2 linked regions of the Homo sapiens genome follow. The protein of the gene in region 1 interacts with the protein of each later gene in a biochemical or structural test. Each region holds a gene or a part of one and is shown on either strand. Other genes may lie near its edges.

Evidence for each region. The genes of interacting proteins can lie anywhere in the genome.
Region 2: the proteins of SDC2 (region 1) and CASK form a complex in vitro, tested with the Homo sapiens proteins (2 studies listed by BioGRID and IntAct, with this or other methods).

The regions. Positions count from the first base shown.
Region 1 is NC_000008.11:96,601,677-96,605,431, reverse strand, and holds part of SDC2 (syndecan-2 precursor), read right to left. Parts: intron 3,038-3,755; coding exon 2,904-3,037; intron 1-2,903. UniProt on the Homo sapiens protein: Cell surface proteoglycan which regulates dendritic arbor morphogenesis.
Region 2 is NC_000023.11:41,552,800-41,556,554, reverse strand, and holds part of CASK (peripheral plasma membrane protein CASK), read left to right. Parts: intron 1-919; coding exon 920-955; intron 956-2,639; coding exon 2,640-2,836; intron 2,837-3,755. UniProt on the Homo sapiens protein: Multidomain scaffolding Mg(2+)-independent protein kinase that catalyzes the phosphotransfer from ATP to proteins such as NRXN1, and plays a role in synaptic transmembrane protein anchoring and ion channel trafficking.

The DNA.
Region 1 (3,755 bases):
TTGTGGAAAGACAGACAACAGGTCAGAGAATGGATTATCTGGGTTCTAGTCTAGAGACCTTTTCACTGCTCATTAGTACTGCTTTACTATTACAAGTTAGAAAAGGGAAGAGAAATCTCAAATAGGTGAATACTCAGGTTTGTGACTAGGGAGAGAGGTAAACAAGTTCTGGTGAGAAATGAAATGGACCTAAGTAGTTACTGTAATATGAGAGACTGAGTTTAATTCATCCATATCCATATCATCTTTGTCCCATTATTATTACAAATCATATGGTTTCACCATGTGATTGAGTCCCTAAAGTCATTTAAGAGAGTTGATCTTTTCAGTTTCCTCTGACTCAGCCTCTGATCCGGCAGGCTGAACAAAGCGTGCAATCCAGGGATCTGAGAGTGTGGGAACTGAAGGACTCCACAGAACTGGAGCCGCCCTGCAGCTGGAGGTGCACAAGCCTCAAGCGGCTCTGGGTGGAAAATTCATTTTTTAAGTCAAAATGTTTTATCGTATGGAAGCAAAGGCTTGACTAAGAAGATACCATTTGGTAATATGGAACTAATCTGAAATACCTTCACTCTTGTATGAATGTATGTGCAAAATGAATCCGCAAAAAGACAGCAGGGATGATTAAATGAGGCCAAGTAAAGATCTGCCACATCCATGTCTGGTTGTTTGGATGCCATGGAAATGCAACAGAAGTAAAAGCTTATGAGTGATGCTCTTCTCAAACAAATAACGAGATTCCCTTTTGTGCATTTTAGTCACTTAAATTTACAACAAACTAGATAGGATATCCGTAACAGTGACATTAATGCCACTGTGAGACCAATTGAAAAGCAAAATCTACACTAATGGTATCCTAGAGGCAATGTTCAATTCGGCTGTACCACATAAACAGCAAAATGAAAAATTTAATCATTATTATTCATGTTATTCATGATCAATATTATCATTATCAGTGCTGCAAACAGTGTTCGACACATAATGAATAGCACTCAACAAATCTCCTATAAATGGATGAATTTCTACTATTACTATATTGAACACAAATGATAGTAAGAATATAAATGTATTAAAATCTTTTGGGCTCCTTAATTTTTAAATTCACCTGCCAAAGTTCTACATTTTTTATCTCGATCTGATGCAATTACTTCCTTAAAACCAATTTTTAAAAACTTAAATTAGTGGTCAATCCATTGCTGTTAACAAACCAGACAGAACTCTATGTCAAATTAAGTCTTGCTTAGGATAGAACTCTCTATCACTACAAGCCAAAACTCACCCAGGAGAGTTGCTTCCCTCAAGCTAGTGAGTCCTAATTGTCTCTGACTTCAGCAGATTTAGTCAAGAGAAGTGGTCAAATAAAAATGTGGTAAGAGCCAAATGCATCTTTAGTAAATAGTAGCTAATTGTGCCACACACACTCTGAGGCAGTCATCGTACCACCAATTGCACCTGCACTTTTCATTTCTCCCTTTCTTTTTTTGTTTCATTCACTCAACTGAAACATTGATACAGTAGCTTTTATGCATGGATCCAGCACATGCCAGGTGAGTCGGTCTCAGTTCTCATAGGGCTCTCCCTGCCTTCCTACCGCCTGGCTTGTGAAGTCTACCACTAATAGTAATTGACCCTTCTTGGTCCTACAGAAAGCACTTCAATTTGGACAGGGCTGGCTTCCTGGCTGTTCCACATCTGCAGAAACCCATCCAGCGGTGCCATTCACCATTCCAGTCACAGGCACTGGGAGGATGGAGGAGGAGGAAGAACAAAGGTACTCTGGGGCAAGGGTAAGAAAAGCCCACATGCATTCTGGCCTGAAGACGGGATGATTCTTACTCCAAGGAAGGCCTGTCGCCACCTTCATCAAACAGCCTTCCATATCCATACCCTGTCTGCTGCTAAAGCTTGGCAGCATCTCATTTCTAATCAACAGATGGGTGAGCTCTAAAAGGGGATGCTTGTGCTTCTGAGTTTTCTTAAGCCATATGTTACCCCTGCACTGATTGCAAAGTCTACCACTACAGTTATTACACATGCTCATTTGGTGAATTGGCTTGGTCTCTTCTGCTCCACCAATTCAATTAATGCTTACAGAATGGTGACTAGGTCTCAGGTGCCATGCTACATGCACTCACATTTCATCTTCTTCAAGGCCCATAGGAAATGGGTTCAGAAGCTAAGAAACCTGACTGGATCCAGGATTTGAAACTTAGGTCTTTGCCAGACTTTAATATGCATGTTCTAACTTCAGTGGGTTACCTATTAGTGGATGGTCAGCTAACTGCAATATTAACGAGGTCAAAATCACAAGCTCCAAGTTTTCATTAGCTGGTCACTTTACTCAGGTCTAAGGCCAAAGACCTTATTCTTAATAAGTCAGCTCTCAAAATGAATATATACAGATGTACCCAGGTTCATCATCATCGAGAGAGGTCAAGGATTACATAGTACTGATGGTCGGCCTAGGAAGACTGAGAAATGACTTAGTGAGACTAGGACCACCTCAAGACGTGACCTGGAGTCTTCTAATTACGTAACCTACAAACCAGGAAACCAAAGAAACAGGGCTTTACTTCTTAACTGGGCTTCAGACGTTCCTTAAGAAGGAGGGCCATGTGAAAAATAGTTGTATATAATTTGAGCCTGGATGACAGAGATTATAAGTGGGTAAATGCCAAAATGATCAAAAAGAGTAAGGAAGAGCCATTTATAACACCACCTGAAGACCATTTGTCCTTACACAATTTTAAGTGGGGTCTTTTAAAAGAACTGTTGTGTACATAGTTCATGATGGGTAGCTCCAAAAAGAAGAAAATAATACAAAAGGGACTGTTGTGTACAGTCAGTAAAGTGAAGCATTTGTAATAACCTGATAATGCAATGCAATGGAAAATAGAACGCACCTTTGTCTGAGCAGGTATCTTGTTCTGTATATTCAGCGTCGTGGTTTCCACTTTTGGAGCAGCACTAGTCAACAGTATCTTTGGAAGTGGTCGAGATGTTGTCAGCTCTGGACTCTCTACATCCTCATCAGCTCCTGGAAAAGTAAGTGAAGATGAACTGAGCATGGCAATCATGACACAGATGTCTCCATTATCAGGCACTATTGCCTGACGTTGACACTGACAGAATCATGTTCTTTCAAAATGCTGGCTCTTTAAGACTTCAGCACAAAGCTTCCTGTGGTCTTCACCATGATGAAGAAGTGATTTCAAAGGTGTCTGTGGGTAGTCTAGCAAGTTTTTCCTTAATAGTATTATCCTGAACATTCAAGTAGCCCTTCTTTCACTTGCATGTTCCTTTTCTCCCTGCTTGACAAGATTTTTTCCCATCTACACTGAAACGTGCTCCATTTCCATTTTAAGAACACAACAGTCCAGGTGCAGGGGCTCACGCCTGTAATTTCAGCACTTTGGGAGGCCGAGGAGAGCGGATCACGAGGTCAGGAGATCGAGACCAGCCTGGCCTATATGGTGAAACCTCATCTCTACTAAAAATTCAAAAATTTAGCTGGGCGTGGCGGCGCACGCCTGTAATCCCAGCTACTCGGGAGGCTGAGGCAGGAGAATCACTTGAACCTGGAGGTGGAGGTTGCAGTGAGCAGAGGTCACACCATTGCATTCCAGCCTGGGTGGCAGGGTGAGACTCTGCCAAAAATAAAAATTAAAAAAACCCACAACAAAACAAAATGCAAACAGGAAAACTCTCCTATGGCTGACTCCTTATTTCATGTGAGTTCCTTGCCCTCTCTCCCG
Region 2 (3,755 bases), on another chromosome or scaffold:
TGTGGTACGTGCACATATTTTTGTGAATTATAAGCCTTGCCTGGATATGAAAAGCAAAAAGAACTGGCTTCAAACTGCACTTAAGCCACGCTGTTATCACATCTTTAACACAAAGTACTTTATATTTGACTTGAACTTGGAGTTTTAAATTTTTTCAGAACTATCCATTTTGGAATATAGAAAGAATTGTTTTTAACTTATTTAAACAAATGGAAGCACTTAACAGGTGCAGACTGGCAATATTTTGGTTGCTAATACTGCTGTTTATGACCCAGTTAAAATTATTGAGAGTTCTAATAATGCAGCAGTATTCTTCTTTCCTGACTTTTAATTTGCCCTTTGAGAATATATCAACTTTTTTATCAGGTAAAATTGTAAATAATTTAGAAATTATCTCAAATGGAATGATATTCTAAGTATATCGTAAGAGAAATTATGAAAGAAAATTGTCTATGACTTTATTTTCAACTTTAAAATAGGCTACCAAAGGAATTCATTCATAACAGTTAACATTTAATACTTTTAAGATGATGAAAAGCCATATAGCCATTGAATTTTTCAAAATCTAAATGGTTGCAGTGACTAAGTTGAAAAGGGCAACAGCTCCTTTTATTTATTTTTTTTTTTTAATAGGCTGTTTCACTTGCAGTGGCTTTTGTGTTGAAGATGCTGAGTTGTTTCTTAAGAACACATTTTCTCTCTGCTTAAACTTACCTGCTTTCTTCAGCTTGCTGCTAAATGGCCTGGGTTTGACTTTTTGATAACTCAACATTTCTGATAAATGGAATAATGTATATTATCTCTTTACAACTTAAATCTAGCTCATTTTTTTAACCATATTGTAACAGAACACACAAATTACTTTGTACTCTTGAAAAATAAATGAAAATTTTTCTCCTGGGTTGGCTTTATTCTACAGGACTTGCCATCAACTACCCAACCAAAAGGACGACAGGTGAATAGATATCCTCTATAGAAACTTCTCTAAACTGAGCAGCTAATAGCCAATCCTTTATTAACCCTTTCCATCCCATAATGTTTGCATTTTGGACCATAACATTTGAGCATTGAGAGCTTGTACCATTTCATTTTAACACATTACACATGACTAATTCTCTATAAAGAATTTTTCCTCACATCTTTGTAGCTGTAATGGTTATTGTAATTTCAACCTGATAATTTTATATTAATGGTTAAGAATTCAGCCTTTGGGGGTGGCTGTGGGCCTGCCTCTGGCATGCAAAAGAATTTTAAAGGTTATAAAATTCTTAGAATTCTAAGACTAACTAAAAAGTTATTCTTAAAATGCTGATGAACATTTTTAAGCAAAAATTTTCTGAAGTTGAAAGCTTTTTCTTAAATTTGTATTTGCATGTGTATTTCTAAAAGCCATTTGCAATGAAAAATAAGAAAAGAATATAAATTATCTTAGCTTCACATCCTGATATACCTGTGTTAGTTCAAACATGAAAAGTTAAGTGCTGCCTAACACTGGCAAGTAACTTTCAAATTGCCAGCACTTTAGAGGTATAGATTTTAAATGCAAATGCAGAGACTTGTAATTTTATAGGCTGGATTGCTGAAAATAAACAGAAAAATCACACAGTGGTTCCAAAGTCTTCAGGTTGGTTTTACAGTGACTTAAACATTAATATTCAATTTTAATTTCAAGAGATAGAATTTTTATGGGATTTTTATCTTGAAATATGGTATTAAAAATAATCAGATTTAGTGTTAAGATATGTATAAATTAGTACCTGATAGAATTCACCCATAATTTTGTCTTAAGACTGTATAATTGATGGAACATTGGGTATGAATTACCTTATCTTAAAGCATTTAAAAAATAAAATAATTCATAAAATGCTGCCATATAATAAACCCTTGAATGCTAATCTATTTCCTAAGTAAACTCACATATCATAAAACTCAGAGCCTTGAACTATGCATGTCTTGAAGCTCTGTGCTGATTTCAAGTGTTACATTGGGGGAAGCTAGGGTTCAAATTCATTTTTATTCTCTCAGAAGAGTAAAATACAAACCTAAAACCTAAATTAGAAAAAAATGAAGCTTTTTTTAACTTTTAAAAAATTGTTTGAGTTACACTTAACTTTATCAGCAATGTGTAGACACACTGCCAGTTGTCATATAAGCATTCTACAGCAAGATACCAACCCAGAGTTCTTGCTAATTTTATATCGTGTGCTGCTTTAGGGTTAAAACCTATCCTGACTGCTAGTATTTATGGCTTAAAGGCTGCCACGCAGTCATGACAACGTATCCATAATGCCAGCATCACCAATGCAGGTTTAAAAAAGAGCGAGCATACTTTTCTATAATTAGAGGCCTATTCTGTTACAGTAAAAGCATAAATTAAGTCTTTATTTTTATTAAACAAGTATTTCAAGTGTTCCTTCCAAATAAAAACAGCAAAGTTTTGAAGCTATACTCATCAAAGATTACTAGTACATTGTTTCTAGCGGTAGAAGTTTTTTGTGTCGTATTTCCATGCATCGTTTTTGCTTTCACCATCTGATGTCCTGTTTGTATTGTAACTGTTGGTGTGTGGTTATGACATTAGAGCTAACTTCTCTTTCACATCACTATGGCATCCTTTCTTACGAACTCCTGTTTTATAGATCTATGTAAGAGCACAATTTGAATATGATCCAGCCAAGGATGACCTCATCCCCTGTAAAGAAGCTGGCATTCGATTCAGAGTTGGTGACATCATCCAGATTATTAGTAAGGATGATCATAATTGGTGGCAGGGTAAACTGGAAAACTCCAAAAATGGAACTGCAGGTCTCATTCCTTCTCCTGAACTTCAGGAATGGTATGTTTTTATGCGTGTTTTGCTTTGCTTGGTTATAAAAACAAAGCCCTGACCATCCATTTTCCAATTTTATATTATTTTAGAGTGTAAAACCTGTTTGATATATTCCTTCCTTTACGAGCCAAACAAAATTTAAATTAGTCATCCAAGAATTCTATATCTTCAGTATCTAGTGAGATCCTAGTTGCAGAGTCAGGGCTTCATTTTACACAAAAAGAAAGGAAGGTCTGGAAAGAGATTGGATGAGCAGCCCTGAGCCAAGTCATGGTCTCACAGCAGAGCCCTCCACTCCTATATGCTGTTATAATTGTTTTAGAATGGCATTAAAAAAATGTACGTTCTCCTTGCCCTTCTACATGCTTTCATGCCCATCCCATTCCCACCACCAGCAAAAAATGTAGGTGCAGTGCTTCAGTGTCACTCAGAGTATTTGAAGATAAAATGTATTTCACTGTTAGAAGGAGGTAGTCAGAAGCTTTGTTCTTTACCTTGCCAGTCCTTTAAAAATACCTTTTCTGCTAGAAAGTTTAAGCCCTAAAAGCAGGCTAAAGTTAGGGGTTTTAGGCACTGTTTTTAACTGAGAGAAAAGGAGTCACAGATCACTGTATATTTTGATAAAATCTATTTCTGCTATTATTGTTACCGTTTCCTTAGTTGAACTGTCTTTTGGAAAATATTGATGGTTTTACCTTTGTTGGTACTTGGGCAATATACCAGATTATTTCTAGCACAAAAGAGATAATGTCTGAGTTTTGTTTCATGTGGCAAAAAATAACAGCCATTAAGCATCCTGCCAGTTCCTCCTAAAATACTTGAACCCAGCTAAAAGAGACCAAAGACATTGAGTCCATAGAAATTTCTACCTGCTTTTATCTATTTTTCTCACTAGTTAAGAGATTTCTCAGTTAATCTCTTTTGC